Regions from separate parts of the Homo sapiens genome. Here regions 2, 3, 4, 5 and 6 are each linked to region 1. Evidence: fine-mapped expression QTL. A gene starts in region 1. Each other region holds a variant in brackets. All regions are shown on one strand. Distances are from middle to middle.

Region 1 (5,228 bases):
ATTCAGTGGCTTGCAACAATAAGCATTTTCCCTGCCTTGCTCATGTTCTGTAGGTTGCCTAAAGCAGCTCTGAGTCCTGCTGTATGTGGAGTGACATGGCTCCAGACAGCGAATCAAGTTCAGGTTTCTTCCTTGTGTGTTCATTCTGAAGCCTCTCTGGAAGAGGCAGCAACATGTTCGTCTCATGGTGGACCACCAGAGCAGAGGAAAGCAGGTCTGGCCCTGCAAGCACATTCCAAGCCTCTGATCCAGTTATATTCCCCATTATCTCATTGTCTAAAGCAAGTCCAAAGTCAAGGAATGGGGAAGTACAGTCCCTGCACTGGAAGGCTGTGACAAGGATGCAGACGTGTGATAACCACCACGGGAGAGTGAGGAGTTGGGATCAACAGCTCAATTGACTGCTCGTAGGTGCTACCAGAAGCCTCAAACTGAGGCATGGAAAGAAGTGACTTGCCCAGGGTTGCTCAGCTAGTGGGTGGCAGAAGTAGAATTTGAACCCAGGCAATTTAAATCCACAGTTGTGGGGGCCTAGAGTGCACACACGGGAAGCGGGGATTTATTTTCTGAAAGTATCTGCATTTTTTTTTCTTTTTTCTTTTTTTGAGAGGGTGTCTCACTCTGTCACCCAGGCTGGGGTGCAGTGGTGTGATCTCGGCTCACGGCAACCTCTGCCTCCCGGGAATCTACGGGCTTGCGCCACCACGCCTAGCTAATTTTTGTATTTTTAGTGGAGACGGGGTTTCACCATGTTGGCCAGGCTTGTCTCGAACTCCTGACCTTAAGTGATCCACCCGCCTCGGCCTCCCAAAGTGTTGTGATTACAGGCGTGAGCTACCGTGCTTGGCCGGTATCTGCATTTTTTTCAGCCGTGACTTGCTAATACCATGTTGGTATCAACCTCTCTTGCAGTTACACATTTATTTGTCTATCCTTCCACCCATCCACAGGGACCTGGCATTTGGGTGTTCTTTCAATTCTCTGCAGTAACAGGCTCAAGTGCAATTCTTGGGTAATTTTTTGAAATTAAGGTTGAAAGGAAAAAAATCACCTTCTAGTTAATCTCAGGCACGTGTATAAATACCTTTGGAAAGTCCCTGGTGGAATTCATATCAAAGCGGCACCGTGATTTTTACTTAAAAACAATTTTGCTCCATGTCAACCGTGGTTTCTGACACCTGAATTTGAAAGTGATCTGGGTGGGCCCAGCGCCATCTCCATAACGGAGTTATGTGTTTACTTGGAGGGAGGAGAGGAAAGGCATTATTCCCTGGCAGTATGTGTGGCCCTGGAATAATGTTCCACACACCCTTACAGAAGGGGATTTCCTCCTTGCTGTTTCCACAGACCCTTCCCTGTGTTTGTTTAAACCCGTTGCACACTGGTCTGACAGCTGCCTGGCCCAGGGCCTTCCTTGCAGACGCATGTACAACCAACCCTCTTTAACAGCAACCTGCTCTGTGTCCCCTGATGCAATTACTCGAGTATATAAACCTCACTGAAAGGCAGGCTTTTCTTGGGAGCTAATAAATAAGCCCCAAAGCCACAACGTGTGTGAGACCTTGAAAAATGGCATCATCATCTATTGGGAATTGTGAACCCTGCAAAAAGCAGCTCGTTGTATTTTCAGAAATAGGTTTTTGTTTAAAAAAAAAATAAAGAACAAAAATCACTAAGTGGAGTCTATATGGAAAAAGCAATCTAGTCTGAGATTCTAAGGCAAGTCTCTTTGCTGCATTCATCTTTCTTCGCAGATTTTATGTAAGAGGCATTATTTGCAGGAAAACAAGACAGGATTTTAAAGAACTCCCCTCTCATCCCGGTTTCCCATCTGCAGTTATAATCCTCTGATGGTGACCTCTGCATTAGTTGCCATGGGTGCTGAGCAGAAGTTTATGACCTCAGGGTGGACTGTAGCTTCAGGGGGGCGAGATGAAGCCTCCGGCAATAAAGAGATAATGGGGAGAAGCCACTGTCAGGAATGACCCTTCGGTGGCATGTAGTCTACAGTTAACGGAGCACTTTCATTTCCACTTCTGGTTGCTTCGAGGAAGAGGGTGCTGGACTCTGGCCACGGGGACACAGGCCGGCAAGAGACTGCAGATTCTTTTTGTCCCTTGGACCTCAGTTTCCTGAGAGGCTGGGCTTGGTGCTCCAAGCGCCCTCTGAGCGAATCTGCCAGAATTTCATGTGTCTTTTCTTTAACTGATGGCATCTTCAGCCCAGAGTCAGTGGAGTCGGCCACTGGTGCCGCTTTCTTGCCCTCGGGCTGTCCAGGTGGTTCCCTGGGGCAGCCGACTCCAGGCCACTGCGGCAGGCCGTGGCGATCGGGGTCCTGCAGAGCTTTACCTCCCCCGCGGAAGCAAAACACGCCGGGCCAAAGAGCCGGGCCAGCCTTCCCGGGATGCAAAAATACAACAGAGGGCGCCGAACTCACCAGCGCTGTGGCCTTGAATATTAATGTACGGGCTGGCTCCAGACCGCCAAGTTCCTTAAAGATGTCTCTGGCGGCCGGGCGCGGTGGCTTACGCCTGTAATCCCAGCACTTTGGGTTGGGGGGGCGGACGGATCATCTGAGGTCGGGAGTTCGAGACCAGCCTGACCAACATGGAGAAACCCCGTCTGTACTAAAAATATAAAATTAGCCTATTTTGCGTGGTGGCGCATGCCTGTAATCCCGGCTACTCGGGAGGCTGAGGCAGGAGACTCTCTTGAACCCGGGAGGCTGAGGCAGGAGACTCTCTTGAACCCGGGAGGCGGAAGTTGCAGTGAGCCGAGATCGCGCCATTGCATTCCAGCCTGGGCAACAAGAGCGAAACTCTGTCTTTAAAAAAAAGAAGTATCTGGCAAGGTGTCACTGCCAGATTTCAGGGGTTTCGATGTGCTTTTATTTGGAATCACCGCAACACACAAGCAGTGTTGACTCGGAGGGGGAGGGGGCAGGGGCCAAACCCACCGCTCGGCGCACACGCCTTGATCTCACATTCCAGACTGGAGCTGATGTGTGTCAGCGCGACATGGGGCGGGGGGAGGGTTCTCCTCGGATGTTTCATTCGCCGTCTGCACGTCACTCCCAAACTTTTCCTCCCAGCGCTCGGGGAGTCAGGTTGACGCGCCCTGGATGCGGGGCTAGAGGCTCGGGGCTGGGCGCGCTCCCGCGGAGCCGGAGCCGCAGAGGCTCCCGGGCTGGACTCAGGCTTCTCAGGTACAAGTTAGGTGCCAGACGCCGAGGTGGGGTCGGCGAGGAGCGGCGGTAGGAGGTCTGGCCCTGGGCTCGGGGCTCCGGCGCCCCTCCGCGGGTTCGGGCCAGGCAGCGCCGGCGGCGGCCGGGGCTGGGCGTAGGGAGTCCGGGCCGGCGGAGGCGGCGCGCAGCCTCACTCCCCGCGGCGCTCCCGGCGCGGTGGTGGCGGTGGCGGTGGCGGCGGCGGCCCAGGCAGACAATGAACTTGCGAGCTCGACGAGCCGAGGCAGGTTTGGGCCCCGGGCTCCTTGGCCCGGCCTCCCCGAGGCTTCAGCGATCCCCAGCGGGAGGAGTCCCTTCGCCATTGGTCCTGGCCGCGCTCCGGGCGCCCTGCGCGCTTGAGGACCCCGCGGGAAGGGTTACCCAGCGGCGACACACGCCCCCTCCCTCGCAGAGAGGACGCGGCCGGAGCGAGGGGACAGGGGACCGAGCAGTGGCGTGGTGGCGCCGTGGATAGCCGGAGGCCGGCGGGGGGCGCAAGCCGCGTGGAACGCACCGGCGGGCTGTCCGGGAGAAGGAGCCCAGTAGTCGGAATCGGGGCGCCCCTGCACCGCCCAGCTCTGGGAGCCGCAGGCGGGGGACCGACCGACGGACAGACCAGTGCTTTCACGGTGTGAGCGCGCGTCGTTTGGCGGTAGGGGACGGGGATTCCCCCCAGCCTTGCGCTCCGCCCCCACACCCCTATCGCACTTTGGGGAAGTTTCCAGGCGCGGCCCGGGGCAGGTAAGTGGGCATCCGCCACTCTCTCCCCGGTTGCGAGCTCGGATGCGCTTCCAGAACCCTGGCTCTAGCCTTGCGGCGGTTCCGGGCGGGGAGGCCAGAGCTCTCCCGCGCCTAAGCCCGTGGGACCCGGTTCAGGGAAGGGGGATGGCGGGGGCGGGCCTGGGAAGAGATAGGGGAGCGGCTGAGCCCCGAGCGGTGTGAACTTTTGCTCCCCGCCCCCTCCTCCTTCCTCCTCCCCGCCCCGCCCCCACTGCTGTCCCCTCCCTGCGCCCCGCCGCGTCTCGGGAGGCGGCGTGACTCGGGAGTTGCCGGCGCTTCCCGGCGGTGGCGGCGTCTCTGGCCGGCCTTGGTGCGGCGAGCCGAGCGAGGCAGCTCTGAGCCGCGCGGTGAGGCCAGAGGCGGGGAGCCGGGGCTGCGGGGCGGCGAAGCTGGGGAGCCGGATGGCAGCGGCCGGGGCGCGGAGGCGACGCTGGCGGTGGAGATGTAATGCGAGTCTGTTGGGTTGTGTGTGCCGGGAGATAGGACGCGGTGGCTGTGGGTGGCTGGGTGGCGGGCTGTGGCGCAATTGGCCCCCTGGGATGGCAGGATAGAGGCGCCGGGGCGAAGGGAACCTTGCCTTTGGGAAAATGAATGAAGAGCCGTGGAAGCACCTTCCCGACTCCTCCAGGCAACCGATGGGCCGGCGTGCGCGCGAGTGTGTGCGTGTTGAGGCTTCGGAGCCGCCCGGGTCCTGGGCACAGCTGCTTGACCTCCCCGTCGCTGTCCGGGTGCCCACGTTCCCGCCCGCCCTGCGCCCGGGGCCGGCCGGCGCGGCTGGGACGGCGGGTATAGAGGAGGAAGGCTGGGGCTGGGTTGCCGGCTGCTGGCGGCTGGAGGTCCGCGCCCAGTGTAGGGAAGTCTTCGAAGGAGGCTGCCAGGCTGGAGGCTGGGACCAGCTCCTGGGGGCGGGGGCCCTTCTTCGTCTGCCTGCGTGCGCGGAGCCGCTGTGACAGCTGGGCGCCTTCGCCTTGTTCACGTTGGTTAAGTTAATTGTACCGAGTTCTCGGGAATGAAGTGTGGCTCCGGGATGCCCCGCAGAGGGATGTGACAAGCCGGTCAGTGAGGCTGAGCAAAGGGGCTAACCTTGCCTCTGGGCGCCCTAGCAGTGCCCCCAGCCCCTCTTTATCAGCTGCAATTCCTGAGTGTTGTGGGATGCCTCGGTGGGTTAGGGTAGCCACCCAGCGTTGGGGCAGAAAGGCCTCGGAGGGCATCTGCACCCCCGAGG
Region 2 (5,228 bases), 41 kb before region 1:
TTCACATGTTATGTGAATGATATCATACTCTCTATATTCTCCTATAACTTGCCATTTTTGCCCTCTATCATGTTTTTGAGGTGCTCTGTGTTAATGCATAGAGCTCCAGTTCACACCCATTTTCAGTAAAGTACAGTATTTAAATGTGTGTGTGTGTTTCTGTGAGTGTGTGTGTTTATTCTCTCATACGACATTTGTTTTTGCTATTATTAACCTACTGCTGTGCACACTGCTAACCACATCTCCTTTGCACATGGACAAGAGCTCCTCGAGGGTATCATGCAGAAATGGAAGTGCAACTCATAGGCCCAGCATATCTTCAGTTTTACCGTATGTTGCCAAATAATTTGTTAAAATAGAGCAGTTTATATGCTGGTCAGTGGTATATAAAACATTTCTCTTCAGTCTACATGGTTGCCTAACCTTTTCTATTGACAGGTTTACAAATTCTGACAGTAAATGGATGTAAAATGGAATCCCATTGTAGTTTTGACTTGATATTTTCCCGATTATAGGCAGACTGTTGTATTTCTTCTTCTGTGAAATGCCTGTGTATAACTTTTGTCTCTATTTCTGTTTTGCCTCTAATAATTTTTTAGTGATTTGAAATATATTTTGGATAATCTTTTTAAAAGAGATGCAGGGTCATGGTGGTCTTGCTGTGTTGCCCAGTCTGGCCTCAAACTCCTGGACTCAAGGGATTCTCCCACTTTAGCCTTCCTAGGAGCTGGGACTACAAGCATGCACCCCTATGGCTGGCAATTTTTTTTTGTTGTTGGTGATATATTGCAAGTATTTTTTCCCTGTTTGTGGTTTGCCTTTTTTTGTTTGACAAAACATTTTTGTATTATTTGTATCTGATTAGCAAAATTTTTTTTATTTACTTAAATTGTTCTATTTTTTTCTTTTATGATTTATGCTTTTTGTCTTTTTTCTCCCATATAATCTGAGGTAGGGATCCAGTTTATTTGTTATGTGGATAGCCAATTTTCCCAGCACCATTTATCTAATAGTCAACCCTTCCCCCTTCCAAATGAGTCAACTTTTTTGGTTGAATAAAAGCAATGATCTCAGATATTCTTGCCTATTTTATAATTTTAAAAGGAATGTTTTTCAGTGCTTTACCATCAAATATGATGTTTATGTAGCTATTTTAAATTTATTCTGTTGGATTAAGTAAAGTACCATATTTTTCTAAATAGCCAGGAACTTTTATCATGAATGAGGGTTAAATTTTATCTAATGTCATTTTCTGTCATTAATAAGATGCCAATATTTGCCTCTAATCTCTTAATATAGTGAAATTACCAATAACTTACTAATAATAAACCATCTTTATTTCTCAAATAACCCAATTTGATGATGATGTATTATTATTTTATAGGCTTTGGTAGATTTGGGTTGTTAATGTCCTGTTAGTACTCTTGCATACATACTTCTGAGAGATGTTAGCCAGAGATTTTCCTTTCCCAAATGCTTTTACCTGGTTGAATTACCAAGGTTACACTAGCTTCACAAAATGGTCTCACCCTTTCTAGTCTCTGAAAGAGTTTACATAAGTTGGAATGAAAAGTTTGGTAGACCTCTCCAGTAAAACCATCTGGGCCTTGCAGTTTTTGGTGGAAACTAATTTAATTTGTTTAGTGGTCATAGAACTGTTCAGGTTTTCTATTTCCTCCTGAGTCAGCTTTGGTCACTGTGTTCATTAGGACTTAAGAATAAGCTTGGCCGGGCGCAATGGCTCAAGCCTGTAATCCCAACACTTTGGGAAGCCAAGGCGGGCGGATCATGAGGTCAGGAGTTTGAGAGCAGCCTGGCCAACATGGTGAAACCCTGTCTCTACTAAAAATACAAAAATTAGCCAGGCATGGTGGTGCAAGCCTGTAATCCCAGCTACTGGGAGGCTGAGGCAGGAGAATTGCTTGAACCTGGGAGGCAGAATTTGCAGTGAGCTGAGATCATGCCACTGCACTCTAGCCTGGGTGACAGAGCAATACTCCATCTTGGAAAAAAAAAAAAAAGAATAAAGAATAAGCTCAGGTGCAGTATCCTGCAGGAAGTCTTCTGTGACATCCCCTGCCCATAATAGACTAAATTATCTTCCTACTAACTTCTACATTGTATTGTCATTCATTCATTCATACAATATTTATTGAGCATCTACTATATGTACTGTTCTAGGTGCTGGGGAAAACCAGTGAACAAAATAGAAAAATTCCCTGTTCTCACAGAATGTACATCCTAGTGAGTGGAAGGGCCGTCAGTAGACAATATACATGAATGACTTGTATGACAACTACTGGAGGAAAAAGCACAGCAAAGAAGGGGTCCAAGGAGTGTCAGGACAGGCAAGGCTGCAAGTTTTAATTCAGCAGTCAGAGATGTCACTGCACACACTCCTTCTTTAGGAAATATTTATGGAGTACTTACTAGGTGCTAGGTACTAGGATTACAAAGAAGAACGAAATAGACAATATTCTTGCTTTTGTGGAGTTTATTATCTGGTGGAACACAAGTGATACATAGGTAAATAATCAAATAAATAGAAATTATAGCTATTGATGAAATAAATCAATAGGTGCTTTGATAAAGATAGCAGGAAA[C/G]CTGGTGTTAAATAGGATGCTCTCTCTGAAGGGGTCCTCTGGGGCTTGGACCTGAAGCATGGGAAAGAGCGAGTGGGACAGAGCACCCCATGGAAACAATCTGCTCACCTCTTGTCTCATCCATGTGACTCTGAGCTCCTTGAAGGAAGAGATCATGAATTATTCATTCCCCATTTCCAGCATGGCACCAGGCCTGGCACATTAGAGATGCTCCACAAATGTTTGTTTACCTGTTAGGTAGAAGAAATCAAGAGTAAGAGCTGAAAAACATTTGAAAATTGCCGTTTGTTGGCTGGAAGAAACAAAGTTCATCATGCAGTTGGCTGACATCTATTCAACAAACACTAACCGTGCCTGGCAGTGGGTTACAGGTTGCGTGGAAGACCCCCTCTTTGAGGCGTTTTAATCCGGACGGAGAGGCAGACTGGAGTTATTCTCATTCGAGGCAGATCCAGGCCCGGGCAGTCCCAGCAAAGGGGTGGGTGTGTGGTCTGGCAGTGGGCCAGGGGGTGTGCTCCCATCAATGTTGCCCAGCCTGGATGTGCCATGCCCTGTGGATGGAAAGGTGGATGTGGTGTTTGAGCTGGCCTGGGTCCTCCCTGGCTCAGGGCCCTGGAGACAGATCTGAGTAGTGACCAAACTTGAGGGAAGGGTCAGCTCCTGCTGCCAATCACCTGGGCTTCTTGCTGACAGCAGGACACAGCCAACCTTGTTGAGAAGACAGCCACACAGATGTCATGGGGTGTCCAAAGACAGTGTGTAGCTCCTTCTAAGGCACCGGGGACACTCCTCTGGCCATCCAGTGGCAGTGTTTAAATGGCAGAAACATTTGCTACCTTGTCTCAGGGAGCTTCGTAGGACTAACGGGTTGATTTACACTCTGCAAGGGAGAAAAACGTCCTCCTCTGAGATGTGTCATCAAAACAGTGACAGCATTGGAAATTAACTGGGCAGGTCCATGTTTCTTCATTTCCTAGAGGTGTCCAAGTGACATTTTCTGCCAGTTTGCTTCATGCAGCCCTCCTCAGATAATCAGAAATGTGTTTACGGGCTTGGGCGTTTGCGTCGTTTGACTAGTGCTTCACGAGGGAAGCCAGCATGTATGGGAGTAAGAAAAACAAATGTTTAAAACACCTGAATGATAGCAATACCTTGTTGGATTATTTACTCACGTTTTGCAAGTATGGGTTTCTAAAACCTGAGAATCTGCTAATTTCTTTCAGATACTCTCCGTAAGTATTATGCATATTGAAAATAACAGAGCTCTCCTCTACTAAAACAAAACTTCAAAAGGGATTTCCAACTGCCATGTGCTGCTTATTGTGGGGTTGCTAGATGCCCCCCTCCCCTTCCCACTACACCAGCCCCTGCCCCGTGGTAGAGAGATCCAGTGTTGGTAACCACAGGTGACCACCGACTCTCTACTCTCCTTTTTGCCCAGGCTGGCCCTGTGCAGGTATTTCATGCCGGAACAATGCTTTTGTTTTTTCCCCTGAAAAATTGTGGGATTAAAGCAACTGGTGGTTTGGGAAGTGTACAAATGCTAAAAATATGTAGAAGTACCCAAGCAGCTTTAAGTGGTGCCATTACCTTCAAAACCAAGCCAGGCACATAGCTCGATAAACATTTGTGCAGTGAATGAATGAAAATGTCAAACCCTTGAACCATGGGGCAGGAAAAATGATCACACAGTAGCTGACTTCTTAAATTCTCTACTTTAGCTTGTTCTTGCTTTAAGAAAAGCGCACATGCCCATGTTAATTTTTAATATCCAGGAACTTCCAAGCCTCAGCCTGAGGCTAACTAGAAATATCAGTGACTCTGGAGAGATCTGGCTAAGTGACAGGAGAAAAAGTGTAGAAACGGCTTCCACCCAAGCATCTGCAGGGAGGTCCCAGGATGTTGAGTGCAATGCTATCAATGACGCTATTTCAAAAGACTTTTTTCCTGACTTCATTTTTTTGAGCTACTTGGATTCCTTCTTTATCTTCTTATCCCATTGCTCGTGACCCCCAGGCTCCTATCACCCCTCGCTATTTTCCTGCTTTCTGGGTTCATCTCTGTCCTCTGGGGACTGGACCACATAGCATATGCCTGACGGTGACCTGGAATCTGGGAGCATGAGGGAGGCTGAGAGAGGAGTGAATGACAGATGGGAAAGCCAAGCAGGGGAAGGGGAGCAGGAACAGGAGCTTTCTACCTGCCCGTCCTGTTGCCCTGCAATGGGGTCGCTGGTGCCTGTCCCTCAGGCTTCAGACCCCGCCCCCCAGACAATGGGGCAGCACCTGGGAGCATGTGACTGTCCTGCCTCTGATGTGCTAGCCATGAGCCCTGGGTGACCAGGCCTTTCCACCATCCCACAGCATCAGGGTGCTCTGCATTCCTGGGTGGCTGCCTCGGTTTCCCTGTTCACAAAGCAGGTCTTAAGCCAGTCCTAAAACGTGTCCTGAGCTGCGGCCTTCTTGGCTGGAACCCTGACCAGTGGGCCTCCCTCCTGCTCAGACAAGGCAGCCTCTCTTGTAGCACCCACAGCTGGGTTATTTTCCAAAGTCCCTTTACACTTTCCTCTGACTCCAGCAGGTGAGTGGAGGCTCTGAGGCCCCTGTGCATCTCAGGGCTGAGCCA
Region 3 (5,228 bases), 95 kb after region 1:
CTAAGCCGCCTCCCCAGCAGGGTTCCATCTTCAGTCGCAGTGACCAGCCCATGCAGGCCATGTCACTGAGCTCTACCCGGGCGCTGCTCGCCCACACCCACCCTGGAACCCATCTTGCCGGCCGTCCTGCTCCTGCCATCTCTTCTGCGGGAAGGCTCTGCCCCCAGCTTCCTCCTTCAGGCTGACAGCCACTTCCCAGTCAACCTGACCACCCTGACCAAACAGCCACCCCGCCCCTTCCCAAGCCACTCTCTCACCGTCCTGTCTTATTATTTTGTGTAAGTGATCAGGGAAGGGACCATAGTGAGGCAAAGGCACCGGCCCGGCCAGGGTCAGGGAAGGGACCATAGTGAGGCAAAGGTGCTGGTCTGGCCAGGGCCAGTGAAGGGACCATAGTGAGGCAAAGGTGCTGGTCTGGCCAGGGCCAGGGAAGGGACCATAGTAAGGTGATCTCACTTGGTCATAGTAAGGAGACCAATGGTGGATCCTGCCTCATAGGATCCACCATTCTCCCGGCTCTGCCCCCTCATCTTGACCACTCTTGTATTAGTTTGGTTGACTATTTTCTGTATTTTATGATCCTTTGACATCTTGCTGGCCTGGGAAGGACTGCCCTCTCGGGACTAGCTAACCCCTAGATATAGAGGCACTTGGAGCACACCTTTTGTGTGCAAAACGGCCAATCCCAGCCCACCCCGACCATCTCCCTTCCTGAGCACTTGCAGTGGGCAATGCAGCTCCCCAGTCGCCCCGCGGGCCAGGGGCCAGAAACTTGGAAGCCCAGACACTCTGAGCCCCATAAAATTATTCAAACTCAGCTCTAGCCCTGCATAGCCCAGTTGCTGTTTGTCCATTTCTTCCTGTGAAAACCACAGCAAAGGCTCTGGCTCACCATTTCCCCAGGGCTCTCTCTGCCTCCTCCCCTCGGTGCTTCCCAGTGGCCCCACATAGCCCGGTGTGTCTCTTCCTCTTGGGAACTGTGAGTAACAAACCATTGTGCCAAAGGCAATCTTTTTTTTTTTTTTTTTTTTTGAGACAGGGTTTCACTCCGATGCCCAGGCTGGAGTGCAGTGGTACCATCTCGGCTCACTGCAGCCTCAACCTCCAGGGCTCAGGTGATCCTCCCACCTTAGCCTCCTGAGTAGCTGGGACTAAAGGCACCTGCTATCATGCCCAGCTAACTTTGTGTATTTTTTTGTAGAGACAGGGTTTCGCTATGTTGCCTAGGATGGTCTTGAACTCCTGGGCTCAAGCAATCCACCCACCTCAGTTCCTCAAAGTGCTGGGATTATAGGCATGAGCCACTGAGCCCGGCTAAAGACAATCTTCTGAGCTGTTGGTCTCACTTTACCCGAATAACAGTGAAACCTATGCTTCAACACCCCCCACCCCCGCACCACTCCCGCATGGTGGTGAGAGCCGGGGCCAAGGCCCTCCTGGCACCTCCACTGTCACTTTTCCCCTGCAGTCCTTCAAACCATGTCACTCTCTTCCTTGAAACCCTCCCCAACCCCCCAACACACCTAGGATAAAAGGCCAAGACCTGCTCATGGCCCTCGAGGCCCTCCCTGGGTTCTACCCTGCCCTGCTGACCTCTGAGACCTCAGCTGCCCGCACTCACCTCAGCCCTGGCTATGCTGACCTCACCGCCATGCTCAGCACACCAAGCCCTTCCCTGTACTGGCCTGTGACCCTGGGGTGCCCTGCCTGGCACACCCTTCCCTGACCCTGGCCAGGCTGGCACCTTCGCCTCACTACGGTCCCTTCGCTGGCCCTGGCCAGACCAGCACCTTTGCCTCACTACGGTCCCTTCCCTGACCCTGGCCAGGCCGGCACCTTCGCCTCACTACGGTCCCTTCCCTGACCCTGGCCAGGCCAGTGCCTTCGCCTCACTACGGTCCCTTCCCTGACCCTGGCCAGGCTGGCACCTTCGCCTCACTACGGTCCCTTCCCTGACCCTGGCCAGGCTGGCACCTTCGCCTCACTACGGTCCCTTCCCTGACCCTGGCCAGGCCGGCACCTTCGCCTCACTACGGTCCCTTCCCTGACCCTGGCCAGGCCAGTGCCTTCGCCTCACTACGGTCCCTTCCCTGACCACTTACACAAAATAATACCTCTCCTGCATGGCCAGCCTCCCTGCTTGATTTGCTCAC[A/G]GCTGTCACCTGAGACTGGACCATCTGTGTGTCTGCTGCTGCTTCAGCAGCCCTCTGCCCATCAGGGACCTCCGCTCCTTGAGGTGGGAACTCTGTTCATGGCTGCAGCCTCAGAGCCTGAATCAGTGACTGCACATAATACTCACTCAACAAACTTAGATGGGGCAAAGGCATGTGTGATGATGCTGTAGAGCAGGCAATCCCCCACCCCTCGGGCATGGGCCAGTAGCAGTCCTGGGCTACACAGCGGGAGGTGAGAAGCAAAGCTTCATCTCTATTTACAGCTGCTCCCCATCGCTCACATTACCACCTGAGCTCCACCTCCTAGTGGTAACGTTGGATTCTCATAGCAGCTCCAACCCTATTGTGAACTGTGCATGTGAGGGATCTAGGTGGCACATTCCTTACGAGAATCTAAGATCTGTTGCTGTCTCCCATCACCCCCAGATGGGACCACCTAGTTGCAGGAAAACAAATTCAGGGCTCCCACTGATTCTACATGATGGTGAGTTGTAGAATTATTTCATTACGTATTTCAGTATAGTAATAATAGAAATGAAGTGCACAATACATGTAATGAGCTTGAATCATCCCAAACCATCCCCCCCACCAAACTGTGGAAAAACTGTCTTCCATGTAACTGGTCCCTGGTGCCAAAAAGTTGGGGCCTGCCGCTCTGGAGTGTGAAGCAGGGAAAGAGGACCTCACCGTAAGGGCCAGGCTCACTTTCCTAAGGAAGGAACAGGGAGAGCCTAGAAGAATGCAGGCCTTGTGCAAATGTCAGAACCTCCAGCAGAGGAGAGGTCTGCAGGGTGCATGGGGGCTGTGACCCAGATGGCATCAGGAAAGAGGTGGCGTTAAGCTGAGCCCTAAAGACTGGCAGGATCTAGAAAGGTGGGCAGGCATGCCGAGAGGAGGGGCTGGGGTGAGCAGGGGCAGGGAGCAGGGAAGGCCAAAAGAGCAGGGAAGGTCTCAGTGCCTCCGGAAAGGAGTATACGAACATTCTGGGCTTTGGAGTCAGGGAGACCTGGACTACAATCCTGGCTCTGCCATTGTCCTCTGTGTGACCTTAGGCAGAGGGTTTGATGCTACTGAGCCTCTGTTTTCTTATCTGCAGAATGGGTATGCACTCAGACTCAGGCCCTTATGGCGATAAGGGTTCACGCATGTAATACCCTCCACATGGCATCTGGACCCTGGAGGTGGGGGCAGGTCACCTCAGCAATGGTCCTCAGGCACGATTGTTGTAGCAGTAGGAGGTGAAGCCACCCAGGTAAGTGGGCACAAGGTCAAAGAGGGTTTGGGTCTCAGGGTAAATGCCTTTGGTTGAACTAGTGGTGTATTGAGCTTCCCACACTGACATTTTCTGAGCAGAGGAATTATTGGTTAGCGCAGGGATTTAGGTCATTAATTTGGAGCAGGTAGAAGTGCCTGGAAATGGAAGGACTAAGGCTGAGGCTTCTATGGTCCAAGTGAGTGATCACAGGGGCTGGGAGTAGGAAGCACGGCTGAAGGGCCATCTCAAAGGCACTGTACCAATGGGATGGTGACATCACTACTGACGGCACCCACAGAGCTGGGGTATATGTATGCTTATGTGTAACTTCCCATTTTACAGAAAAGGAAGCTGGGGCTCAGGGAGGTTAGGTGACTGCTCCAAGGTCACACACTTAGTACTGGACCCAGTGTTGGAACCCACCAAATCTGACCCATCTTGTGCTTGTCACTAACTGAAGGATGTGGCAGGCAATGGAGGCAAGGTCAAAGGCAAAGTCAAGCCCCAAATGGTCAAAGACAAGGATTAGACTTGGAGCTGGTGTCCAGCCTGAGGGTGGAGGGGTGAGGGACATTTACCGTAGCAGGGGAAGGCTGGGTCGAGTCAACGTTCTTGCAACATCCGTAATTGCAGCGTTAGCTGGGCAAGTTAGATGGGTGGGGAAGTCCTACTTAACCACATAGACATTTCTTAAACATTTTATTTTTACTTCAAATATGTGAAGTACAGCACATCTATTTGTCTGCCTTTTGGTATGGAGCCAAAACCTTTTCTCTGAGCATGAGCCCACTGATTGGAGCTCTGGGTCATCTCTGTGGCAGAAACCACAGAGCAGTGAATCAGCACTGATTTCTGGTTTCAGTGTTTCTAAAGGGACATGAGAACTGGAAGGCGCTTGCAAGGCAATCTCGAGGCAGAGTCCTTCATTATTTGTGTGATTATTTTCCCCAAATCATTACCCTCATCTGTGCTGGGACTTTCCAAAGCTTCCAGCCTAGCATTCAGGGAGCAGCTCCCTTTCTGCATTAATATTTCATCAGCTTCCCTCAGTGGCTCTCCGAGAGTGGCCCAGGGACCACTTGCGACCCTTTCAGGGAATCCAAAGTCCAAATTCTTTTCACGGTCAAACTGAGATGTTGTTTGCCCTTGATGCTCTCATTTTCTCCAGAAGGTACAAATAAAGATTTTCAGAGCCCCCAGCCCCCAGCCCTGGCCTCTGACAGCCGACGGAATGCGTGCTTGTGTGTCTCTGTGCTTTGAAAGTCTCTCATCTTTAATTTTGAAGATAGTCAATATCAATCAATGCAAGCCACTGAAACAAAAGCTGTTTGGGATCTTCAATGATTTTTAAGAGTATAAAGGAATCTTTAAACAGTTTGAGGCTGGGCATGGTGGCTCACACCTTTAATCCCAGCATTTTAGGAGGCCGAGGCAGGAGGATCCCTTGACCCCAGGAGTTTGAGACCAGCCTGGGCAAGATGGTGAGACCCTGTCTCTACAAAGTAGGTAAGTAAGTAAGTAAGTAAATAAATAAATAAATAAATAAAAATTAGCAGAATGTGGTGGCACACACCTGTGGTCCCAGCTACTTGGGAGGCCGAGGTGGGAGGATCACTTAAGCACCAAAATTTGAAGCAGCAGTGAGCTGTGATCATGCCACTGCACTCCAGCCTGGGGGACAGAGCAAGACCCCACCTCTGAAAACAAACAAACAAACCCAACTAGTTTGAAAACTTGCTAGCTTATATGATATTTAATTAACCTGTGCCTTCATAATATCAAGAACAGCTGGCATGAAA
Region 4 (5,228 bases), 52 kb after region 1:
AGGGCAGGTTCCCATTGCGGTTAGATTGTGTCTTTGCTCATTTTCCCCTCCTCTGTGTCTCTCCTCCTCTGTTTCCTTGCAGATGTTTTCAGTCATCCCCAACAAATTCCTTCCAAACAGTAAGAGCCCCTGTTGGTACGAGGAGTTCTCGGGGCAGAACACCACCGACCCCTACCTCACCAACTCCTACGTGCTCTACTCCAAGCGCTTCCGCTCCACCTTCGACGCCCTGCGCAAGGCCTTCTGGGGCCACCTGGCGCACGCGCACGGGAAGCACTTCCGCCTGCGCTGCCTGCCGCACTTCTACATCATAGGGCAGCCCAAGTGCGGGACCACAGACCTCTATGACCGCCTGCGGCTGCACCCTGAGGTCAAGTTCTCCGCCATCAAGGAGCCACACTGGTGGACCCGGAAGCGCTTTGGTGAGTGCTGGGTCCCAGGGCTCCTGTCTGGTCTCGTTCCTTCATTCGTTCATTCCTCCCGCAACGTTAGCGCTGGGGTTGGGGGGCGAGGGCGGCAGAAAGAGATGGCACAATTCCCTTGTTAGGAGGCTGTTCCCAGGCAAAGACCCAGCAGGGTCTGGAACTCGGTTCCCAGCCATGCAGTGAGCATTGATTGCCAGCTGTGTGCAGGACACGGGGACGAGTCAGAACTGGCAGCTCTTCTTGTTCCGAAAGCCCGGGCACATGACCCGAGCAGTCAGCAGTAAGTGCCAGTGGCCAGTAAGGGCCAGCAAGAAGGGCGTGATCCGGGCTCTTGGCTCCCAGCTCTGTGCTATTCCCTGCTCTGTGCCGCTCCCAGCTCTGTGCCGCTCCCAAGCTCTGTGCCGCTCCCAAGCTCTGTGCCGTTTCCTGCTCTGTGCCGGTCCTCTGCTCTGTGCCGTTCCTCTGCTCTGTGCCGTTCCCTGCTCTGTGCCGCTCCCTGCTCTGTGTTGTTCCCCTGCTCTGTGCTGTTCCTTGGCTCTGTGCTGCTCCCTGCTCTGTGCTGCTCCCTGCTCTGTGCTGTTCCTCTGCTCTGTGCTGCTCCCTGCTCTGTGCTGCTCCCTGCTCTGTGCTGTTCCCCTGCTCTGTGCTGTTCCCCTGCTCTGTGCTGTTCCCCTGCTCTGTGCTGTTCCTCTGCTCTGTGCTGTTCTCAGCTATGTGCTGTTCCAGCTGCAGTCACTGCACCTGGGGGAGACTGAGTTGCTTCAGGCCTCAGCTTCTCTGACCTGCCCCATCTGCCTTATGGGTTCCATATGATAACCACATGGAGATCATTCTGGAGGCCTTGCTCTCAGCCCTTTGCCGCAGGCTTACCATGACCACTGCCCATCCCTCTCTGCTCCAGCTTAACCCCATGCACCCTGCGGTCCTCAGATCACTGTTTCCTCTCTGTAACCTTTTCCTTGTGCCAGGAGAGGTTTGGTCACTGGAGCTGAGGGGTGATACGTGCCTATTGTCAACCAGAGTCCTGGCAGGCCACGAGGGTGTTTTCCAGTAATGGACTCAGGTTGACTAGAAGGGAATCTTCAAAGTTTTCCCTAGACCAACTCTTAATGTGTTTCCTGACAAACGTTTGCTTTCATCCTTTTGATGTTCGTCCTACAGTGAGCTAAAGTGTAAATGTTTCTTTTGTGGTTTAGCAGCCGCCACTGTAGGAGCCAGGGTTTCACATCCCTATGCATTTGCTGGACGTGTCTGAACACACTCCCTTGCTGTAGGGTGCTCCCCCGAGGCTCACAGTGATTTCCCCTTAATGAAAACCAGCTTTCTACCGGCAGGAAAGGAGGAAGAACAGAGGCGGGCCTCTGGAATCTAGTCTTCAATGTCACCTTGAACCTCTTGTTACTTTGGCCACGGATGTTCTCTTTCCAATTTCCATTGACTTCAGGAGTTGTGGTGTTGGGAAGTGGATTTTTAAATGTTTGCAAGTGAAATTTATTTATTTTTCAGGCAGGGGGTGAATTTAAGCTGTATGTGGCCGATGCCAGAATCCATGTCTGTCTAGAGTATGATCAGTTCCCCTTACTGTTTGGACAAAGGGCAGGGTATTTGATTGAACAGGGGGAGGAGAGAGAACATCAGGCAGGTGCTGGCTGGGCCCCATGAGGAAGGCATCATGGAGTTTATAGGATACTGCCCTTCTCTCTCCTGTGGGCAGCCCTCGGTCCTCTCTCCCTGTTTGACACAACACATGCATCCTGGGTGTCATCGCTGCCCAGCCACTTACGAGTCCCACCTGTGCACAAGTTAACCAGCCCCAGACTTTGTCCCTCCAAGCAGACATGTTTCTAGCTCTTGAGTAGGTGTTCCAGCCTTTAATCTGCCACTGTCTAGCTTAGTGGTGGTATCTTCCAGCCCTTGAAGCATGCATGGATTGAAGTGGGTAGCCAGGCCGCATAGACCCCCACCCCCATCCCCAGCAGCCCTTTCTGAAGCTTACCTGGGCTGAGCCTCTTGCTGCTGTCGCCAGGCCCTTTAGGCCTTTCCATCTCTCTTTGGTTGCTGTCTGGGAGGCCATCGCTCCAGCAGTAGCAACTTTGTCCTCAGTATCTCCTGCTTCTTGGTTCTCATAGGAATCGTCCGCCTAAGAGATGGGCTGCGAGACCGCTATCCCGTGGAAGATTATCTGGACCTCTTTGACCTGGCCGCACACCAGATCCATCAAGGACTGCAGGCCAGCTCTGCAAAGGAGCAGAGCAAGATGAATACAATCATTATCGGTAAGGC[G/T]TCTGTGTCACTCTGGCAGGGCTAGCACCCTCCCTGGGGTCCTGGCTCTGGCTCCAGGCCTAGCCCAGCTCTGCTTCACCTCCAGAACATTTACATGGTGGCAGCAAACTTCTTTTGAGCCTCCACTTCTCCACCTGGCTGTCACTCTTACCACTACATAAAATGTTCACATCACTTGAACATTACTATAAAGTGGAAATGTTGACTTTCTAATTCTTTGGAGACTTAAGGACAGCTGATGGCTTTCTTGAGAAGTTGCCATTTCTTTGTTTTTAAGAAATTAAGCAGGGATATTGACTTCTTTTCCTGATGTACTGATCTGATAAGTTTGGATGGGGGAATTATAAGTGCAGTTAACTGGTTAGTCATCGATTTGCTGCTTGGGGCTTTTGTAATCCCTGGCCACTGGGACCATATAAGACGGAGGCAGCTTCTCCTGAAATAGACTCAGCTCTGACACATCGCCTATAACTAATTGCTGTTTAAAAAGCCTAGCCCCTGTCAACCTCATGCCTTTGGGCATTCAAAGTGAGGTTGATTAATAATAATTTGTTTTAAATATTCACAAGAATATTTTATAAGTAAACATACATATTTACTCTTTAAAATTTATTTTTTATTGTATAATTTAAGGTGTACAGCATACTGTGATGTTTCGATGGAAATAGAGACAGTGAAATGATTGCTACAGTAAAGCAAATTAACATAGCCATGTTTTTTTCACAGTTACCTTTGTGTGTGGGGAGGGGGGCGTGTGTGTGGTAAAAGCACCTGAAATATACTGTCTTGGAAAATTTCCAGCATGCAATACAGGATTAATAGGATTAATAACTACAGTGCACATGCTCTACCTTAGATCTCTAGACTTGTTATTTGCCTGACATAATTCTTTTTATTGGATTCAGCTTAGAAGGCGTTTATCCACTGATGCCTTCTAAAAGAGAAATTGAGTCACGTTTTGCTTAAATTGTTTACCTTAGATAGTGATCTATTTTTTAATTTTCCTAGATCTGTTATATTTGCAATCTCCAAATTAAATAAATCTATTAGCAACTAAGAGGAATTATAATCAGCCCTTCGAAAGATGACTTTTTAACTTAAGACTCTCCTGTCCAAGGGGACAGACTTATGTGCCTAAGTCCTGACTTAACTCTTTTTTTTCTTTTAAACTCAAAGAAATTAAGTCACTGGGAGTCACCTCCAGTATGATTTGGCTGTTATCTAGTTTTTTGCAAACTTGGGAGTCCAAACTCCCCAAATCTCAAGTCTGACTTACATTTCATTGTGACTCCTATACCATATGCCTCTGGGAAAATCACATGTTCTTATGAAAGAGATGAAAATATGTATTCTCCGGCCAGGAAACAGAGACTAAGATAATGAATGAAAAAGGAAAGCCTCAGTTTGGTCTCCTAATTTTGCTTGCTCCAAGATTTTAAAAAGAATGAAAAATAAAATCACTGTGCTGATATTTACTTAAAGCAGAGTTTGGTGAGTTCTATGGTAGTCTTGTGGTGTGACAAGTATCTAGCCCTGCTTGGGCCAGCGGCCAGCTCTGTGCCTTGCGGCCGTTCATTTTTCCTGTTCCTGGACTCTGTCTGCACCTCTGCAAAGTGGGATTGTTGGACCAGGTCAGTTCTAGACTCCTTCCAGCTCTGAAATGTGACTCAGCTCTGCCCCAGCGCTTCCTCTTTGTTAGATTCGGGGCAGAAACAGCAGGATCTTTCATCATCTTGGGCCCCTAGGTCAGAGAGGACCTTTCTTCTGCTGTCTTTTTGACAGCTAGAGTCACACAAGAGGTTCAGGATTCAAGTGGCCTGAACGTGATGGCTGAACTTGAGGCCGGAGCTTTAGACATGTTGAAAGTCTCCTGCCTCTACTCCCAGGTACCCATCGTGGTACTCTTTGTTTCTTGAATTGCCATCGTCCCCCTTATGTCTTAAGGTCCGAGAGAGGAGGGGCCGTGCTTTCCTCCCCTGATCTGTCCCTGGTGCCAAGCACAATGCTGAGCACGGATTAGACACTAAGTTAATGCTTCCTGGATGGACGAAGGATGGATGGTGGCTGGATGGAAGGAAGACAGTCAGGTGGATGGACAAACGCCTCCATGGCTCTAAAACCAGTTCATTTTTGAGATCTGACAGAATTTGTGCCAATTTAGCTAGAGAGTTCACTTGTCCTTTATATTCTTATTCATTGTGAGTAGAATTTTCAAGGGACTTCTGATTGACTCGTTTTTTCTGTATCCTAGGGTATTATCTCTTTAAAAAAAGAAAGAACAAAAGGCCAGAACAGAGCTGTTCACCTGGATGTGATTACGCATCCGACAGAAATGATAGGGGCCTGCAGGGATATGATACACTTGTCACTGACCAAAGAGACTCAGTCATCTGGCTCAGTCTCTCCCCAGATAAGTAACTTTCAGATGTGTCCTGTGGTCCTTGGCAAACTGTCAGGAAATCAAGTGTAGAGCTGATTGATGAATTTCCTTTTTCCTAAACACACACATATACACACACA
Region 5 (5,228 bases), 31 kb after region 1:
TCAGCCTCCCAAGTAGCTGGGACTGTAGGCACCACCACTATGCCTGGCTAATTTTTAAATTTTTTGTAGAGATGGGGTTTTGCCTTGTTGCCCAGGCTGGTCTTGAACTCCTGGGCTCAAGCCATCCTCCCACCTCGGCCTCCCAACATGTTGGAATTACAGGCAAGAGCCACCGCGCTCAGCCCAAATTTTAAATTTAACCCCCGCCCCCAACATGTATTGGGCATTCTGTCTTTATGACTGGGCTATGTTTTTATGTGTGTTGCCTGCCTACCTTTAGAATTTTCTTCAGGACTTTTTTTTGTAAAAGCGAACAAAAGAAGAGACTCTTTTGCCTTCACAGAGCTGATAGGACTGTCAGCTGGTTAAGGCGGATGCTAGTCAGACAAGCACACACAAAAAACGGAAGTGGGAAGGGTTGGAGGATCAGGGCAGGGCCAGTGTGGTCTGGGGTTTCAGGGAAGGGGTCCTTGCCTGAGATCTGAAGGGTGAGCAAGAGCGAATGCATCTAGCAGGGCCAGTGGTGTTGGGGAAAATGGGATCTGGCTAAGGAGGCTGGGAGAGGCAGAGATGGACACACAGAGACAGCGAGATAAAGGCCGCCAGCAGGAGTGGGGGCTCGGGGGTGGGGTTGGGGGGATGCAGTGCTGCAAGGGGGATTGAATGTTCCCAGGTACAGCCCAGCAACGAAGAGGGGCTCAGGGCTTGGGGGACCTGCCCAAAGTCACAGAGTGGGTATGGTTGTTTCATGATCTCGTGGTGTCTCCCGGGCCGCAAGCCCCACAGCGCCAGGGCTGTGCCTACGCTGCGCACCCTGAATCCCCATGGACTCCCAGTCAGGGGCTTGCGTTCTGCTCCGTGGCCACTGCTGTACCTTTGCAAGGATGGGGAAGGCCTTGGGGATGGGGAGGCCATCACACAGGCACTTTGACTGCATCAAGCGAAATTCTTACTTAATCTGAAATGACTTCAGGTCTGAAAACTGTGTGCTTTGATCAAATATTTACTTTTCCGAAACAGAAACCAGAGCAGGTCTTGATTGTACCAGTCAGCTTGAACCAGTCAGCTACAATGACTTTTCGTAAGTCTATTTTTTTTTTTGAGATTTCGTTTTAGCCCAGGAGGAAATCTGCTATCTGCAAGAAAGTCCTGGCCTTCATAATGAGGCCTGAATTCTTTCCAGATCTTATGAGAAAGATTCCACTCTTCTGTGATTAATTCAGAGAGGTTACTAATTTCTCATACCATAGATCGTTTGCTTTGTGGGAGATGACTGTGCCTCAGCCAAGATCCACTTATTATTTTTTGAACAAGTTTTTTTTATTATCATGTTTACATAGCACTGAGGACACAAAACAACGCTGGAAGCTCAGCTGTCTGATTCATACGCTGTATTGCTGACTCTCACTTCTCCCTTCCCCTCTCTACTCTACCTCTCTGCAAAAGAAGGCTTTCCTTCCAGAGCTGGCAGCTGCCCCTGCTTCTTGACAGGATGAGCAAGACAGCGGTGGTTTAAGCAAGGTCTTCGCTGTGCTCCGGAGAGATGTGGGTATTCTGGGGGAACATGCCTTTGTTATAATATTTATTGAATGTTCACTTTTCCAGCTCTGAATACTGAAACTTAGTGAGATTTTTTTTTTCGAGCCATGCCCCATCAACACTTTTAGGTTGTCTCTAATGGAAAAGAGAAAAGAAAAAGATTCATTTTTGATGGACTGGGCATATCCAAGTTCAGTGTCTTGGGTGATAGGTCTATAAATAAATACTTGTTTGACCTATTTTACAGAGGTTGGAAATCTAGATTCTAGATCTGAGTGGAGTTATCAGAAACTAGGTCTGTTATCTAAAAAGCTAGAGGAAATTGACAAGGAGAAGGAGGGTCTGAAATGACCTTTTTTTTTTGAGACGGAGTGTCACTCTGTCCCCCCAGGCTGGAGTGCAGTGGTGCGATCTCAGCTCACTGCAACCTCCACCTCCTGAGTTCAAGCGATTCTCCTGCCTCGGCCTCCCGAGTAGCTGGGATTACAGGTGCCTGCCACCACGCCCGGCTAATTTTTGTATTTTTAGTAGAGATGGGGTTTCACCATGTTGGTCAGGCTGGTCTCAAACTGCTGATCTCAGGTGATCCACCCGCCTCGGCCTCCTAAAGTGCTGGGATTACAGGCATGAGCCACTGCGCCCAGCCTGAAATGACCATTTTTTAATTAGTTTCTTGTCTGGATCTCTCTCTCTTTGCCTCCTGGTGTCTTGGTGGGACCAGCGTTTTCATGGCCACATCAGGGTGGAGAAGGGCTCTCTCCCAGCCTCTCCAAAGCAGTTTTATTCAGACATTGCTGGTCTGCATGCAGCTTTAGCCAAGCCCCCCAACTCTTGAAAATGGGAAACTGCTTGATGAGTGAATGTGAAAGTACATGTCCCCATCCTCCATGAGGTGAGAGGTCTTCAGCTTGCGTTTAAGTCCAGCCCTGCCTCTTACTTGCAGTGTGATTTAGGGCCAGCCACTTCACTGTCAGAGCCTCGGGCTCCCTTCATCCTTTTTAAAAGTATTCGGCCACTGATTCCGGCTCGGCTGGGTCTTTATACACCAGGCCAAAGTCCTTACTGTTGAGCTGAGATCCTGTTTGCAGAAACGGGAGGGAGGAAAGAAAAAGAAATGAGGCTGCTGGTGGTGGTGGTTGCCGTTTGTTGAGCAGTTGGAGTTGGCAGGCACTATGGGCATATTTTTGTGGGGATTTTCCCGTCTAATCTCCACGCCTGTCCATGGGGTCGGTACTGCCGTTAATCTCCCTGCTACAGATCAGCGAAGGGAGGCACCGAAGTGCAAAGCAGTTTGCCCGAGGGCACACAGCCGGTAAGGGGTTGATACAAACCAGATGGCACGTGTGGATGTTCACCTGCCTCTGGGTTTTGGCTTTTCATCTTTCCTCCCCGCCATGTTTCTCTTTCCACAAGGGTATGTGCCCGTTCCTATGTGCCCAGCAGCTGTATGGGATGAGATCCTAGGCTGCCTCTGTCAAACGCTCTTTGGGCATTGGTGAACATTCATAAAACAGCATCCTCTGGGGTCACATTGTCCCTTTTGCTCTTGGACCTGGAGTTCCTTTGGTCTGTGCGTGTGTGTAAAGATGCATGCCCACTCCAGGGAATTCTGTGGTCTGCTTGGGGTTTTCCATTGCAGTGGCAGAGAAGACAAGGGAAAATGTCCTTCCCGGCTGCACTCCCAGGCCTGTCATTTGGAGTTGAATGGTAATAGAAGGGTTTTTTTTTTTTTTT[T/A]AATGATTTATAGTATGTCTGGAGGAAAGATGTTATTAATTCAAAGATAACTTGAGAAAGGAGGGGACACAGTGCAGCTTGGACAGAGCTTCCCACTGGTGCTTTGCGCAGTCTTTAGCCCACCTCTGCCTTGCCTTATGTGGTCCTATGGCCTCATTTCAATTCCCTATTTCACCTGATCTGACGAGGGAGGCAAGGAGTGCATGCATTTTCAACAGATAAAGAAACTGAGGCTCAGAGACGTGTCTTACTGGACGTGAACTCACGTCCTGGAGGCCTAGGCCCAGTCCGTTTTCTATTTGCCACACCATTTTTTGTGCAACATTTATTATTTTTTCTTTATTATCTTTGTAGTTACAAAAGTGATGCTTGCTCTATGTAAGTAAAATTGGAAGCAAGATGGAATGTGTAAACAGAAAGCATAGCCCCCCAAATGCTACCCACAATCAACAATGGGAAACTGTGTGGGGAGTGTATTAGTCCGTTTTCACGCTGCTGATAAAGACGTGCCCAAGACTGGGAAGAATAAGGGGTTTAATTAGACTTACAGTTCCACCTGGCTGGGGAGGACCCAGAATCATGGTGGGAGGCAAAAGGCACTTCTTACATGGCTGCGGCAAGAGAAAATGAGACAGAAGCAAAAGCGGAAACCCCCGATAAACCCATCAGATCTCGTGCTTATTTACTATCACGAGAATAGCACGGGAAAAACCGGCCCCCATGAGTCAATTACCTCCTCCTGGGTCCCTCCCACAACACGTGGGAATTCTGGGAGCTACAATTCAAGTTGAGATTTGGGTGGGCACACAGTCAAACCATATCAGGGAGTGAATGTGAATGTGCATGTCCCATCCTCCATGAAGTGAGAGGCAGTTTGGGCTTCAGCTTGTGTTTAAATCCAGTTCTGCCATTTACTTACAGTGTGATTTAGGGCAAGCCACGTCACCCCACCCAGAGCCACCGTTTTCTTATCTGCACAATGGGGCGATTACACCTACCTTTAGCGTTGTCTAAAAGTCAGAAAGAGATGAGAGGAAGCAGGTTCCCAGCTTGATGCCTGCCATAAAATGGCAGCTCATCCTGGTTCCTTTCCCTTTCTCCCTACACCAGTGCTTCTCAAACTTTCCTCTTCGTACTCAAAGGTGAAAGACAGTGAGAGCTCCCTGGGGTTTCCCAGGCTGGCCCCGACAGCTTGCAGCCAGCAAGGCAAGCTGGATCTCTGCAAATTTTGTGTCAGTTAGTATATACGTGGATATAACTTCATTTGAAAACAATGTTTTCAATGTTTGAAATTTCGAATATTTTAAACATGGAAGCTTCAGTTTGTCTTACAGCTTCATACAGCTCCTGGCTAACCTCTGCACACTGGAGGTAGAGGGGCTGGCACACCTCCACATGCCCACATGCCCCTGGGGGAAGCACACCTTTGCACACTCCTGGTGGGGTTGGCACACCTCCACATACCCCTGGGGGTCTGGCACAACTCCACACATCCCTGGGGGCCTGGCACACCTCCACACACCCCTGGGGGGCTGGCACACCTCCACACACCCCTGGTGGGGCTGGCACACCTCCACACACCCCTGGTGGGGCTGGCACACCTCCACACACCCCTGGGGGGCCTGGCACACCTTCGCACATTCGGGGGGGACACACCTTTGCACATTCCTGGAGGATCCTGGCACAACACGTTTCTGGGGGGGCAGACACACCTCTGCACACTCACTCCTGGGGGAGGTACACTTCTGCACACTCCTGGGGGCGGGGCTGGCACATCAAACACTCCTGGGGAAGACCAGCACACACGGGGGAGGGTTGGAACACCTGTGCACACACTGCATGGGTGCTGGCACACCTGTGCACACACTGAATGGGGGCTGGCACACCTGTGCATACACTGCATGGGGGCTGGCACACCTCTGCACACTCCTGAGGTCCCTACAGCCAAGCTGGGT
Region 6 (5,228 bases), 82 kb after region 1:
TCCATCCTCCTCCATGGTTAGAAAAATAATGAAATGGGAAAAGAATAGTTAGCATCTGTACATATTTTGCCCAATCTTTCATTGTCTTATTATTAGCACTGTATTCAGCAGTTGCACCCGAGAACCATGTTGAGGGCCAGAGTGCAGGCTTTGCAAGGAGGGAATGGTGGAGAAGCCACAGTCCCTGCCCTCAAGGTCAAGGTCCAGGTCAAGTTGGGCAGGAAAGGAAATGTGACATGAGAGTGTCTGCCTAAAAAATGGGAACTCCAGGGAGGAGCCTGGGGAGCCAGGAAGTGCTGCATGTATGAGAGGATGAGCTGGAAGTTTAAGCCAGGCCCAGGACTTTCTACACATAGAAAGCCATGGAGGCTTTAAGCAGGGCTGGCTGTGGCCAGATCACTGCTTTGGAAAGCCCATGCTGGTGGCAGGGTGCATATGAGAGTGCAGAGACCAGGGGAAGGAGGACTAGCCAGGAGGCTGTATCAGCTTCAGGCAGGTGTAGATGGGGCATAAACAAAGGGAGTGGTGTGAACTGGGGAGAGGTGGGAGATGAGAAGTTCTGGGCAGACACAGATAGGCAGAGCAGGGTCCCTGGGCACTTGGAGAAGAGGCAAGGGGAGAAGCCCTGGAGAAGGGGGCCTCACAGCAAAAGGGGATGAGGCTGTTTTTTTCTGGAAGCTTTGCTAAGAGTTTAGGGTGAACTGTGGAGTTAGAGGAAACTGTTCCTAAGACTGCTCTCACTTCTGACACCAGTTGCAAGTTCAGGAGAGATATTCTCCAACCCACCTTCAGGTTTAGTAATTTTCCAGAAGGATTCTCAGAACACACTGGAGGCTATTACACTATTGGTTATGATTTATTACAGGGAAAGGATGAAGATTAAAATCAGCCAAGGGAGAGGAAGTGCAGGGGGCAGACTCCAGGAGGGGCCCAAATGCGGAGCTCTGAGTCCTCCTCTCCCTGTGGAGTCATGGACGGTGTTAGTGCCACTGGCCATGGTATGTGGCAATCCTCGTGGAGTATTGCCAGGCCAAGCCTTGGGGGTCCAGGCCTTTTACTAGGGTTCCGTCACATGCAGATGCTGTGGCTGACCTTTAGTCTCCAGTCCTACCAGAGTCAGAACTGATACCATGTGGCCCAAGGCCCCATCATCAATCTCAGTGTTAGCCTGCCTATGACCAAAGCCCTCAGGCCAACCAAGACACTTCTGTCAGGCAGGACATCCAGGGGCCCAGACATCACCCCCAGGAGCCGAGGGAAAGGCCCGAGTTCTCTCTGAGTAGAGTTAAATCTTCACCACACGGCTTGCAGTAAGGCACGAGAGAAGGAACAGAAGGGTGAAGACCCGGGAAATGGGTACTGGAAAGTAGAAAGGACTTAAATAGAAACATCCTCCTGTGTACTTGGTTCAGTAATGATTAGATGCTGAATTACACACACCCTCACAGTCAAGGATGTTCCTCTGGCATCAGGCATTTGGCTCTTCACTCATGTAGGTTGTCTTTGGGGTGTCTGTGGTTGATTTTTCACATCCCGTTGTGTGCTGGGCATAGAGGTCACACTGGGAACAGAGAAACAGCCAGGATATTGTGCGAGGAACATGTACACCATTGGTGGCCACAACCTTGACCTCTTCCCTGCACTTCAGTCCTTACCTGTGAAATGGAGGCATGGCGCTACCCACAGGGTGTTGTGAGGATGAAATGCAACCCCTAATATAGGAATTCTTTGCACATGTAGCACAAAACCCCCCATAAAGAAGCAAGAACACCTTGTGTTAAAATCCAGCTTCTGAAAGTAACTTTGCTAGGATAACTCTTTTGTGGTACAGTGAAATGCCATACCACTTTGGAAAAGTGCCCTATGGTGTTGGGGCAACTGCTCCTGAAATAATGCCCTTCTTCTGTGGTCCTAGGTGAGGCTCCAGGTTGGGCTCTATGCTGTGTACCTTCTGGACTGGCTCAGCGTTTTTGACAAGCAACAGTTTCTCATTCTTCGCCTGGAAGATCATGCATCCAACGTCAAGTACACCATGCACAAGGTCTTCCAGTTTCTGAACCTAGGTATGAGTGTGGTGCTTAGACTGACGGGCCAAAGCATGAGCTCCGTGGACTTGTTCTGGGAGTCCTCTGGGGCAAATGCAGACCTGGTCAGCTGGGTGGGAATGGGCTGAGCTGGGAGGCCTGGGGATGTCCTTCAGGAGGCCTGTTAAGTACCATTTATTGAGCACTAGCTGTACATAGGTCATTGTGCACAGTATGGTGAGGGATTCTCTGGAGAGAAGGAGATGGTTTCCCTTCTGGGAGCTTATGGTCTAGTGAAGGGAGAGGAGGAAGCCATAGCTCACCTAACTGAATGACAGGTAGGATGCCGTGGGGAAGGTCAGCACTGTCATGTAAGGTATGTGCTGATGGTTTGGGATCCCAGCTACTGCACGGATGAGGAAGGCTTCATGGAAGGAAAGGGCCTGAGAGCTGAGCTTTGTAGGACCAACAGGATGTCACCGGGGGGCTGGAGCAGAGGACTTGGGGCTTAGAGGAGGGAACAGACAGATCATTGCATCATCTCCGGTATTCTTGGAAATTCCAGGAGTCAGAGCCGTGTGGCTGAGTTTTGGCTGCTGATCATGGATGCTGGGCCCCTGGGGCATGAGCGCCTGCCCTCAGCCTGTGGATACCAGCCCCCCCAGGGGCCTGAGAGTCACTTTGTGGTGACAGGCCACACTGCTGACTATGGTGATGGCTGGCAGAGGCATGTGCTGGCGGAGCGAGTGCTGCCCATGTGGACGGGGCACC[G/A]AGGGATGGCTTGAAAGGCTGAGCAGGCTCGAACAAGCCGCCCTCCTTCCCAGAACGCCTCCTGCAGCCCTGACTAATGGTCTTGCCCGGGAACTTGGTTAATTGAGTATTTCTGAAAATATATCTGCCTGCCACTGGGACTTGGGCCTCTTTGATCATTTGATTTTGTTTCTCCTTTTTTTGGAGTTTGATGAGTTCTTTCCCTTCCAAGGCTTAGAATCATCTTTCTTTGATTTGACCACATGTTGACTCTGTCCCATTAATGAGCTTGTCTTTTGTCCCCAAGATGGATAGTAAGGCCAATTCTGTGTTTCATATGGCCCTAGGATGCTGGGACATGCTTTTTCTGTCTATGGGCTAAGGACTTTGGCCAGATCCCAAGAGCCCCCGGTAAAGAGGCTTGAGCAGTGATGGGTTACACCAAGAAGCTGTGGCCCAGAGGGCGGGGCGTTGGGGTCGCAGCCCTTGCTGTTCTGTTTCAGGGCCTCTCACTCCAGAGGGCGGGGCGTGTGCGTGACTGACAGCCCCTCCCGGCCTTTTCCAGGGCCTCTCCTCACTCCAGAGGGCGGGGCGTGGCGGTGACTGACAACCTCTGCCAGCCTGTTCCAGGGCCTCGCCTCACTCCAGAGGGCGGGGCGTGGGGGTGACTGACAGCCCTTGCCGGCAGGCCTCTTCTCCCTGATCTCCTTGCTGCAGATGGAGGTTCAGCCAGTGGGGGCTCTGGGCACAAGTGGCCTCCTCCCAGCCCTCCTCCCTATGGCCACTTCACAGCAAGACGCACAGGGTGAAACTGTGCAGGCCCAGGGACCTTGGCATGAGCAGCCTGAAGTAGAAACGATGATGGCGGAATTCCAGAGGGCTGCTGAGCAGGAAAACCGAAACCCGTGGGCTGTGCTCGGCAGGCCGCACGTTCCTCCAAGGACGGGCTGACACCCATGGAGAGCAGCCCACCAAGGGCAATTGGAAGGGAATCCTTGAGGTCAGCCTTAGACGCTGTATCATCATTAAATGCCAGCTGGGCTCCCCCGAGGGTGGGCATCCTGCACCCGCCGCAGAATTTCTTCGCAATTTCCTGATGGTGTTTCCACCTTCCTCCCTCAGTGCTTCCAAAATGGATCCAGCCAAAGAATTTTAATCCCTAAATATGTTCTCTTAAAGGAAACTCCTGTCTGAATACGAAGCATAGCTGGGATTTTTGCAAAGTCCCTTTTACTTCCTGCCATGCCTCCTGCCTTACGGGACTCGTCTTCTTTTATTCTAGGGCCCTTAAGTGAGAAGCAGGAGGCTTTGATGACCAAGAGCCCCGCATCCAATGCACGGCGTCCCGAGGACCGGAACCTGGGGCCCATGTGGCCCATCACACAGAAGATTCTGCGGGATTTCTACAGGCCCTTCAACGCTAGGCTGGCGCAGGTCCTCGCGGATGAGGCGTTTGCGTGGAAGACGACGTGAGAGCTGAATTGTTGCTGCACGTGCTGGGCCCGCCAATGCCGTCATCATCAGGATTTTACAAATCTCTTTGCGGGGAACTGTTTCACTCATGGTATGGAAAACCCCAGGACTCTGCCACTCTAGGCACACATGAATTATAACCATTTTGGAATTTCCTTCGTGATGTTCGAGAGCTCAGCAATGGACCCCTCACAGAGCTCCTCTATCCGAGGCCATTGGAGACCCCAGTTTCTCAAGAATTCAGCTCTGCTCTGAGCGTCCTGGAGCTTGGGGATGCAGCCAGCTGGCCTGCACTGGGTGTGGAGAGAACACCTAGGGAAGGCAGCCTGGCCCTGCCCGCCTCCGCCTTCTGGAGAGCCTCTGGGTTCTGAGTCAGCAAGCCAGAGGTCATGCCACAGGCCTGGCTGGAACTTACACTTCACGTTCCCTTTTTTTCCCCCTAGAGATGGGGTCTCGCCGTGTTGCACAGACTGTCTGTATTCAATGGCTATCTTCACAGGTGTGATCATACCACATTCACTTCTGAAACACTCTTGTTGCGATCGCTAACCTCACTGGGACAGAGAACCGCAGTCTTTCGAGAATGGAGGCTCTTCATTTTTTTTTTCTCCTTTACTCCAAACTCAGCCCTCCAGTTTCTTCAGATGTAAACCCTGTTAACGTCACTGTTTCCAAAAGGAAAAAAATAAGTCAGTTTTTGGCAGCACCTTCATCTTTCTGACCTCCTCCTATTCTGTCCTTGTGGACTTATGTTTAACATAGAAAATGAATGCGTTTAAAACAAAACCACTTTCTGCATTTAACCAGTCCTGGCTCTCTCTCTGCTGCCTCTTCATACGTTTTCTCAAGAACTTCAGTTTATAATTGGAAGAGAAATTTTTGCTGTTAATGCCAGAATGAGCAACCTCAAGGAATTGAACACTTCTTGGAAAATCTAGGTAATTCAAGCCCTCATCAGGTTTACAAGATCATCAGAGAAAC

Alleles and levels. Alleles are on the strand shown, and positions count from the first base shown. SD is a standard deviation of normalised expression in the study named. Not every link is listed here.
For the expression in tibial nerve of the gene that starts at base 3,076 in region 1, allele A in region 3 goes with a lower level than allele G (moderate effect, 0.63 SD a copy in GTEx).

Evidence for each region. PIP is the estimated chance that this variant, and not a neighbour inherited with it, causes the effect.
Region 2: its variant is fine-mapped to the expression of CHST15 in whole blood (TOPMed, PIP 0.94).
Region 3: its variant is fine-mapped to the expression of CHST15 in tibial nerve (GTEx, PIP 0.96).
Region 4: its variant is fine-mapped to the expression of CHST15 in whole blood (TOPMed, PIP above 0.99).
Region 5: its variant is fine-mapped to the expression of CHST15 in whole blood (INTERVAL, PIP 0.90).
Region 6: its variant is fine-mapped to the expression of CHST15 in whole blood (TOPMed, PIP 0.93).

Annotation. Positions count from the first base shown.
Region 1 is chr10:124,091,446-124,096,673 of GRCh38, reverse strand. It overlaps CHST15 (carbohydrate sulfotransferase 15), which reads left to right and starts at 3,076. Exons shown (of 8, transcript NM_001270764.2): 1 at 3,076-3,205.
Region 2 is chr10:124,132,300-124,137,527 of GRCh38, reverse strand. LOC105378536 (a long non-coding RNA gene) reads left to right here. Exons shown (of 4, transcript XR_946428.3): 4 at 2,182-3,737. Among named protein-coding and RNA genes, the nearest start is that of CHST15, 41 kb to the right of the region's middle. The variant C/G (reference allele first, on the strand shown) is at 2,604.
Region 3 is chr10:123,996,577-124,001,804 of GRCh38, reverse strand. No RefSeq gene overlaps it. Among named protein-coding and RNA genes, the nearest start is that of CHST15, 94 kb to the left of the region's middle. The variant A/G (reference allele first, on the strand shown) is at 2,154.
Region 4 is chr10:124,039,774-124,045,001 of GRCh38, reverse strand. CHST15 (carbohydrate sulfotransferase 15) reads left to right here. Exons shown (of 8, transcript NM_001270764.2): 3 at 83-422; 4 at 2,555-2,701. Among named protein-coding and RNA genes, the nearest start is that of CHST15, 51 kb to the left of the region's middle. RefSeq lists an enhancer at 1,528-1,767. The variant G/T (reference allele first, on the strand shown) is at 2,709.
Region 5 is chr10:124,060,058-124,065,285 of GRCh38, reverse strand. The region is part of intron 1 of CHST15 (carbohydrate sulfotransferase 15); the gene reads left to right. Among named protein-coding and RNA genes, the nearest start is that of CHST15, 31 kb to the left of the region's middle. RefSeq lists an enhancer at 4,771-5,228. The variant T/A (reference allele first, on the strand shown) is at 3,274.
Region 6 is chr10:124,009,168-124,014,395 of GRCh38, reverse strand. It overlaps CHST15 (carbohydrate sulfotransferase 15), which reads left to right. Exons shown (of 8, transcript NM_001270764.2): 7 at 1,916-2,063; 8 at 4,057-5,228. The coding sequence ends at 4,247. Among named protein-coding and RNA genes, the nearest start is that of CHST15, 82 kb to the left of the region's middle. The variant G/A (reference allele first, on the strand shown) is at 2,796.